Linked DNA regions of Homo sapiens: region 1 is linked to region 2. The links come from fine-mapping of genetic effects on gene expression. A gene starts in region 2. The other region holds a variant in brackets. All regions are shown on one strand. Distances are from middle to middle. Region 1 overlaps SLC6A4 (solute carrier family 6 member 4). Region 2 holds the start of SLC6A4 (solute carrier family 6 member 4).

Region 1 (4,380 bases), 24 kb before region 2:
GTATTTTTAGTAGAGATGGAGTTTCACCATGTTGGCCAGGCTGGTCTCGAACTCCTGATCTCAGGTGATCCACCTGTGTCAGCCTCCCAAAATGCTGGGATTACAGGCGTGAGCCACCGCGCCTGGCCGAGACTCTTTTACAGACCCATCATCGGGAGGTCACATCTTGTAAACTGCCCCTCACAGCCTTTTTTGGTGAAATCAGCCCTTTGCTACTGTGCTGGCTGATGGTGTAGAAGGGACCCAGCTGGCTGAAGGAAGCGTCTTACCATAGAACCAAGACACAGCGACTGCTTCGATCAGCGCGACAGTGAGCACTGCGGGCCCCGTGGCATACTCCTCCAGCAGCTTCACCACGTAGGCCCCTCCCTGGAGGGGAGAGCAGAGCCTGGGTGAGGGCCCTCCAAGGAGCCACCCCTCCCAACTACAGAGACCTGCAGGGGCTTCCTCACTTAGAATCATTCTGGAAAAATCCCACCTGGGACCGAACGTGAGTACCCCAGAAACTGCCTCTTAGGCCAGGTGCGGTGGCTCATGCCTGTCATCCCAGCACTTTGGGAGGCTGAGGCGGGCGTATCACCTGAGGTCAGGAGTTTGAGACCAGCCTGGCCAATATGGTGAAAATTAGCCAGGCGTGGTGGCACACGCCTTTAATCCCAGCTACTCAGGAGGCTGAGGCGGGAGAATTGCTTGAACGAGAGGCAGAGGTTGCAGTGAGCTGAGATAGCACCATTGCACTCCAGCCTGGGGGACAGAGCAAGACTCTGTCCAAAAAAAAAAAAAAAAGAAACTGTTTCTTGGACTGTTCTTGGACTGGCCTTTGCAGTGGCAGTGTGGGCAGGTTTTACCCACTCAGACGCCTCTTCCCATCCTATGTAGTTCATTCTTCTCATTTCTTCACCCCACTAAATTTTAAGAGACAAACTCCAAAGGGCCTTGGGATCTATTTTAAACTTTCTTCAACTTATTGAACACCTGCTGTGGACACGACCCTGGAGAATCCCTGCCTCTAAAGACTGAATCCAGAAGGGCCCAGGATACCAGACACATTAAGGGCCTTGGTCACAGTTTTGCCTTTCTGTCCTAAATCATGACTCACTGGGGTTCCACTCAGTCCCCTTGACCCCCACTCCAGGGCCATCGGGGTCACGGCTTAAAGATGCACATTTGCAAAATCTGCCTTAGAGTATTTACTTCAGCTACCAAAAAAAAAAAAAAAGGATCTCTAGAGAGGGTGTGACTTCTTTACCATTGCAAATTCTGGAGGAGACCAAGCGGCATTACACACATGACGTGAAGAACGTCAGGGCAGTATCCTCAAGAAAGCAGCTCTAAAGAGTGGAAATAGGCTGGAAAAGCAAATCCTAATTTTCTCCAGATAGTTTTTGAAGCCTGAAATCTAGTGGGATCTGCGGTAAAATGCTGACAGCCCCTGGATACTATGCACGGAATCTGCAAGTAGATGCACAAGAAACAACTTTTCTTCTCCTTGATGACAAACCTTTTAATGGGAGTAACAACCTCCCCTCCTTTGGTCCCAAAGCCAGGGCACTGTGTGAGATGGAAGGAGACGAACAGCTTCCTGTAGCGTTCTGCTGCCCTAGGGGAGGCCAACTCAAAGCTGAGGGGCATGATACTCACAAAAGTCAGGGTGACCAGGGATCCAAAGAAGCAGGTGATGACCACGGCGAGCACGAACCGCTCCCGGCGCTTGGCCCAGACGTGTGGGAACTCATCCAGCACAGCCGTGATCACCCCCTCCAAGCCTGCAAACTGAGAGGTACAGGCAAGCAGTCACGGTGGAGGCTTTGGGACAAGGCTGTGGCCTTCAGGACAGTGAACAGGAGGGAGGGGTAAGGTTGCTAAGTGACTGGTCAAGCTGATCATCACCAGTTCCCCGGCTCGCTGGACCATGTAAGCATCTCAAAGAGTATTTCCCTGTTTTACACTGTCATTTAAAGCCCATCACTAAGGAGAGCCAGGAAACAAAATAGCACACGTGGACAGAACTTCAATATATGAGGTCTCTCGGGGAGACTCCGTTTGCACCAGAAAGGCCAACTCAAAGCTGAGACTCACTCCACACTAATAATTCCAGGCCCTGAACTGAACCCTTGGCAAAGCAGAGACCCAGGAGAGACCTCGCCCCGGCCTGTAGGCGCCATAATTGGGCCAAGGGACAGTGCTTAATAACAGTTCACATATGTGAGCCTTGGGCCTCATAAGCGCCTGGCGCTTGACCCACTTTATCCCATTAATGACTCGAATGTACCAGAGGGTGGTAAATGCCGAGGAGTCAGCCGGGGGTCTGGAGCACCAGAAGGGAGTAGCCAAAGCTGCCTGGGATGGCCAGGGATGGGAGGGAATTGAGTCCAGCTGAGTCCTCCTCCTTTCCTCTTCATCCTCCCACAGCCCATTTCCCCTTCCCATTTCCTCACCGTGCTGTCCAAGCCCAGCGTGATTAACATCAGAAAGAAGATGATGGCAAAGAAAGTGGACGCTGGCATGTTGGCTATCGCTTCTGCATACGTGATGAAGAGGAGGCTGGGACCTGAGACAGAGGGGAGAGAGGAGGAGGTGGTT[G/A]ACAAGACCTGTCCTACAAAGATGTCACAGAGGAAAACTCAGCCACAACAACAGTTACAATTCTCATCACAAGACCTTATGTGTGAATCAGGTTTTGACACACACCAAGTGCGTCCTCACACTCTACTCCGTCTGACGTGGCCACCCCAGTTCCTGGGAGGCAGGAAGGGTGGGGCTTCCATCTTGAAAACTGTGTGCCCTCCATTAACCCTGGGGGTGGGTAACAGATCCAAGACCCAGAGACTGGCAAAGCTGCACATGAGAATAAGAGTTTCCACCATATAACAATTCCATGGGATTTCTCAGGACCAGGATTGATATTTCTAAAGTCCATGACAGTTAGCCCCCTCTGATGTCTTCAGCTTCAGAACAGTAGGAAATGTTAAATTGATTTCCGTAGAGTCACAGAGGCTTTGGAATAAAGACCTCTTTCTATTTTAAAGTCCCTTTTGAAAGTGTGAGGGACATGTCTTCAGCCTCTCATGGGTTAGCTAGGGGTGCCCTCGTTTGGGGTATGGGGTTGGTCAAAGCACCGAATCAGGCCAAAGATACAAGCATGCTAACATGCTTGTAACAAGAAGGCCCTGGGACCTCGCCCACTAGATGCCATCATCTGTTTTTTCTCCCTCTGTTGCTCTTTTCTTTTTCCACAAAAACTTCACGGTAAAATAGAGTGGTCATATTGGCTAGATTTTCTTTTTCTGCAAGGGGCAGTTCTAAGGATAAATGATATTTGCTTACTAGACTTTGAGCCATCACAAGACCATCACAGGAAGCAAACCCACTGGTTTTAAAGCCATCATCAGAGTCATCATTTCAAGCCCATAGATTTTGGAGGCCCCAGAACTGGGTGCCAAGGGAGTTGCCCTGTCCCTGCATGGCCTGAACACATGGAAAGATCTCTAAGGCATCGAGCTTCTCTCAAATCTTTGAATAAAAAATGTTTTGGAAACAGGGTCTTATTCTGTCACCCAGGCTGAAGTACAGTGGTGTGATCATGGCTCACTGTAGCCTTGACCTCCCAGGCTCAAGCAATCTTCCCACCTCAGCCTCCTGAGTAGCTGGGACTATAGGTGTGCACTACCATGCCCAGCTCATTTATTTTTTTATAGAGGCAGGGTCTCACTATGTTGCCCAGGCTGGTCTTGAACTCCACCATGCCCAGCCTTCTTTGGAAAATTTCAGGAACATTTAGAAATAAATCAAAAGTTAGATCTTTACAAAGATTCAAAGCAAAGCAACTCAGTAGGAGCAAGGGACCTGCATAGAACCCGAGGTCCTACCTGCGTCTTTGGCCACCTCAGACACATCTTCATTCCTCATCTCAGCCATGTAACCGAGCACTGTGAAGATGACAAATCCCGAAACGAAGCTCGTCATGCAGTTCACCACGCTGGTCACCAGGGCATCTCTGGAGGGGAAAACCCAAGGGGCCGCCTGAGACAGTTCCAAGATCAGGGGTCTAAGGAGCATCTGTCCGTGTGCCTGCCCTGCCTTAGACAGGGCGGCCACAGCAAGGACAAGCAGGCTGAACTCAAGGAACCTCAAGCCTGTCCCGGAGTCCCTTCGCCTTCTCCCAGAACCCAGCTGCCGAGGCCTGAAGCTCTGACTGCCATGACCACCACACATGGTGGAGGGAGAAGAGCAGTCAGGGGTGCTTTAAAAGGCAATCCTGCTAGCACAGACCTCTCCATTTCAAACCAGCCTTGTTCTGGAGCAGGGCCCAGGTTGGAGTGGGGGCCAGGACAGGGCCTGAGCCTCACATTTGTGAGATCCTCAGATTTAGGCTTTATCTTC
Region 2 (4,380 bases):
GGGCATTTGGGCAGCTGGGGAGTCGGGTTATTGGGCCCCTGTTGGTTGGCTGTGGTTAAGGTGCAGGGGTTAACTTACTTACATGTGTCAGAGTGTGCAAAGCCTCTGCCTTAGAGTGAAACCTGAGGGGATCCCCAGGAGACCCTGATTTGAAGGTGATATCTGGGTAGAGAGTACCGGCCCTCCGGCATTTTTGCACCATCATTTCAACTCATGTTTTCTTAAAGTGGAGAGGTTAGGGTCATGGTTGCAGAGTGAGTTGGAGGGGACTCGGACATCGTGTTAGGCAGTCCTCTCCACAGCCCCTCATTTAGAGCTGAGGACCACGAGGAGCTGATATGTTACTGGGAATAACTAAGGTCTGAGTTACCTTCTCAACAACAACCAAAAGTGACTGTATAATTTTTGCTCTGGCTGTCCAGACATCTTTAGAAAAAGTCAAGTCATGACCATATCCTGTTGATTCATGAAGCCAAATTAAAATTAAGCTTCTTCAGGAAGCCCTGCCTTCTATATTCTCTCCAATTATACCATTCATTCCACAACTAGGAAGGAGAAGGAGCTGCCACGTATTGGCTTAATGTCTGGAGTTACCTGTGTTTCTGTTTGGCAGCGGACATCCAGGGTGTTTGGGAAGCAAGCACCTGCTGTAAGAAACAGACTGATCCATGCTCCTAACCCCCCTCCAGCCAAGCATCCCCATTCCTCAGGCACCTCACCTATTTGCGAAACTCTTCAACATGCCTCTCCAAGTTTCATCAAAATGCTCAGACGACTCTAAACATCCCCCGAGAGGAATTTCTGAGGTCTTTCAGATTCCATTAAAACATCAACATTATTCCCCCATCCCACTCCTAGTATATATATATTTCTTAAACAAGGAGATTGAAAAAAATGGGTTTGAATATCTGTGCTGGTGGTTATATCTCTGAGAGGTCTTAGATGGATCACCAGAGTGTTGAGGGGACTTTTGATTAATTGTGAAGCACTTTCAATCTGTTCTTTAGTGGGAAAAAGAAAGAAAGAAAGAAAAGAGGAAAAACCCATGCCCCAAGTGGCTTGCTCAATTTGCACAAACCTCATAAGAACCTGCTTCTCACTCATCCATATTGGAACGGTCACTGCCACCCCAGAGTGCGTGGCAGGAAAACCCGAACCCTGGGGCCTCAGTGGCTTCACACAGAAGCAAGTAATGGGACAAAGAGTCAAAGCTGTGTGCTCCCTACGCTCCTAAAAACCCAACACTGACGCTGCCCACAGTTCTCTGTTTCATTAAACACAAGTCCCAATGTCACCTTCTTAGACATTTTTCCTATGTAACTGAAGGCAAAACACATTAAATATTTGCTCTCGTCTTCCTATGATGAGAGTTAGCTAGCAGGCTCATAAATAATCCATTGACCAGGTTCACTTTTCTGGACAAAACTGATGGTAAAAATACATACACAAAGTCTTTGTAATGTCTGATTCAGAAATTCTACCCCTCTCAAATTCTTCAGAGTCCCAAATGGAAAAGGAACAATTCAATATGCAAAAGCCCCAGTTCAGAAGAAAATCTGCTCCTTAGCCCAAGACCCAAATCCACTCTTGAGCTCCAGAGAGCTTTTTTTCAAGAACAAGTTTGAATGTACACAATTTTCAAGCAAATGATGGTTATATCCTTCAACCACGTAGCACAGTCGTTGGAGTTGGAGTTTCACATACATTCTGAATGGCCTGTGAGGTGTCTGAGAGCGCCTCAGCTCTGACAGTGAAACCACCCAAGCGCACGGAGACTCGGCCCACTTAGGCGCCACTCAGAGATTTCTCTAGCTGTCTGGGCATTTGTGTCAACCAGAACTCTCCCTTTGCATAAAGCCACCTGCACGCGATGACAGCAAAGTAAAGATCAAACATAAACCATGGGTTGAAACGAAAGCAAGCAACTCTTCCCAAAGCGCAGGACAGCACTTTGCTCAAGACCCTCTTTAAGGGGTCTTTCACGGGTCCTCAAGAGGTTGCAAAGCCCCTGCAACAATAGACAAAGGAGCCCCCTACGCCCGCCCACTTCGAGCACTCCACGTTCCTCGTCTCCCACTCTGGCCGGTCAGCTTCAGCTCTGGCTCTTGCTGAGCGTGGAGGGCGCAGGGGCAGGATCCGGCGCCCACCGCTGGGGCGCATGCACCTCCTCGCCTCCTCGCAGGGCGGTGGGGCGCAGCGGTTCTATCCCCCTCCCCGAGGCGGGGAAGAAGGTCTGGAAAGAAACGTGGGTTCGAGGCGGAGAGGAAAAGCGGACCCACCTGCCAGGCTGCGCGGGGAGGCTGGTCCCGGGCTGGGCAGGCGGGCTGGCCTCGCGCCCTCGAGGCACCCGGCGGCGCTGGCTGTGCGGAGGGGCGCCGGCGCGGCCGTATTTGTACCCGCGGGCCCTCACATGGTCTGATCTCTAGATAGCCGCCGCCAAAGAGCTCTTGAAGAATTTTTGCGTCACTTTGAGGCGAATAAACTTAATGCTTCCCCGCGGCCGCGGCTCCGCGCTCCCGCTGGATGGGGTTGCGCTCGCCAGGGAGGGGCCGCGCTACGGGGCGGGGTGCGCGCCCGACCCCAGAGCCAGGAGGGGAGGGACCCCCGACACACACACACGCTCGCAGGGAGGAGCGGAGCGCGGAGCAGCCGGCAGGGCAGGGCCGAGCGAGGAATCCTGACTTTCCTGCTCTTTAACTTTGCGGGAGGGGGGAGGCTGCACAAAGGAGCAGGTGTGCGCCTCCCCTGCCGCCCCGCGCCCACAGGACGGCACACAGGGGTCTGCTCGTGCCGCTTTCTCTTGACCTCGGACACCTCCCCATCGTCCCCATCCCGAAAGCTGCTCTCTCTTTCTTCCTGGGACCTAGCAGTACTCGATACCCATGCGTTTATCTGACTGACCGGCTGGGATGTGAGCTCAGCTTAGAGGCCCTTGTCTAATTCCTCTCCGTCCCCAGAGTCTCACAATAAAGACTTCCACAATGAAGGAATGAAGAACTGGTTCTCATTTTGTTAACCAGCTACAGTTCAAAGCTGCGTCAAAAAGGAGCACAGTGCTTTGGGAGGCTGAGGCGGGAGGATTGCTTGAGCCCAGGAATTCAAGACCAGCCTGGGCAACACAGCAAGACCCCATCTCTAGAAAAAAAATTTTTTTAATTAGCCGGGCGTGGTTGCTCGCGCTTGTGTTCCCAGCTACTCAGGAGGCTGAGGTGGAGGATCAGCTGAGCCCGGGAGGTCGAGGCTGCAGTGAGCCGTGATCGAACCACTGCACTCCAACCTGGTGACAATTTGAATTATCTGAAAGGGCCCAGCAGGAGCCTATTGTTTTGAACCATGTGCATGTAGTTTTGATAATTTTTTCAAAAAGTTTAAAAATTGATTTAATGTTAATATCCTTTTTGCTAAAATTATTTAAAACTTTAAAAAGGGCACATGCAGTACTTGCTTTGGGTTGTCCCTGAGGCGGAAAGGAGAGGGCTCTACCTCTCCCCAAGAGGAGGCCAGGAACGATAGGAAGTAGAAGACCGAAAGGAAATAGCAGTGACAAGTTTGCAGCTCCAGAGAAGCCACCGCCCCTTGTACTTGGAGGAACTGACCCCTGAAAACTGTGCGGCCGGTTGGGCTGAGCGTCTAGAGGGACTGAGCTGGACAACCACGGGCAAGCGAGGGCAGCTCCCAGCGGGTGGAGTCCGCGCGGGATTCTGGTGCCACCTAGACGCCAGGGCGGGGACCGCAAGGTGGGCGGGAGGCTTGGAGGCCGGGATGCGGGGGAATACTGGTAGGGTGCAAGGAGAATGCTGGAGGGGTGCAGGGGGGATGCCGGGGGTGCATGGGGGGATGCTGGGGGGTGCAGGGGGGATACTGCGAGGGGTGCAGGGGGGATAATGGGGGTTGCAGGGGAGATCCTGGGAGAGGTGCAGGGGGATGCTGGAAGGGCTGCAGGGGGGATGCTGGGGGTGCAGGGGAGATGCTGGGGGGGCTGCAGGGGGGATGCTGGGGGTGCAGGGGGGATGCCGCGAGGGGTGAAGGGGGGGATAATGGGGGATGCAGGAGCGATCCTAGGAGGGGTACAGGGAGTTGCTGGGAGGTTGCAGGGGGGATGCTGGGAGGGCTGCAGTAGGGACATTAGGGGTTAGGTGCTGGCATTCAGAGCGGCAACGCCAGGCGGGAGAATCCCCAACAAGCTTGGGAATTTCACCCCCAGGGGCAGCGCCTGCACGGGAGTGGGGCCTCCTCCTTTCAGATGAACACAGTTGTCTGCTGCCTCCCACGTTCCACTTCTTAAATGAGCATGTTTGTGCTGTATAGGCAAGGGCAACAGAAAACGCAAAGTGTCCTTTCCAGGAGGGCCAAAGGAGGGGGGCAGGGACGCTGGGAAGA

Evidence for each region. PIP is the estimated chance that this variant, and not a neighbour inherited with it, causes the effect. A credible set is the group of variants that fine-mapping cannot tell apart.
Region 1: its variant is the best candidate, but not a certain one, in a credible set for the expression of SLC6A4 in blood mononuclear cells (TOPMed, PIP 0.64).

What each region holds. Positions count from the first base shown.
Region 1 is chr17:30,208,874-30,213,253 of GRCh38, forward strand. It overlaps SLC6A4 (solute carrier family 6 member 4), which reads right to left. Exons shown (of 15, transcript NM_001045.6): 9 at 3,867-3,994; 10 at 2,439-2,551; 11 at 1,642-1,773; 12 at 270-369. Among named protein-coding and RNA genes, the nearest start is that of SLC6A4, 25 kb to the right of the region's middle. RefSeq lists an enhancer at 3,789-4,248. The variant G/A (reference allele first, on the strand shown) is at 2,584.
Region 2 is chr17:30,233,334-30,237,713 of GRCh38, forward strand. It overlaps SLC6A4 (solute carrier family 6 member 4), which reads right to left and starts at 2,364. Exons shown (of 15, transcript NM_001045.6): 1 at 2,280-2,364. LOC105371720 (a long non-coding RNA gene) reads left to right here and starts at 4,165. Exons shown (of 3, transcript XR_007065698.1): 1 at 4,165-4,380. RefSeq lists promoters at 2,148-4,174, 2,148-3,932, 2,148-2,442, 2,338-4,162, 2,343-4,188 and 1 more, cis regulatory regions at 2,443-3,932, 2,804-3,628, 3,505-3,544, 3,772-3,942, 3,811-3,830 and 2 more and a silencer at 2,598-2,780.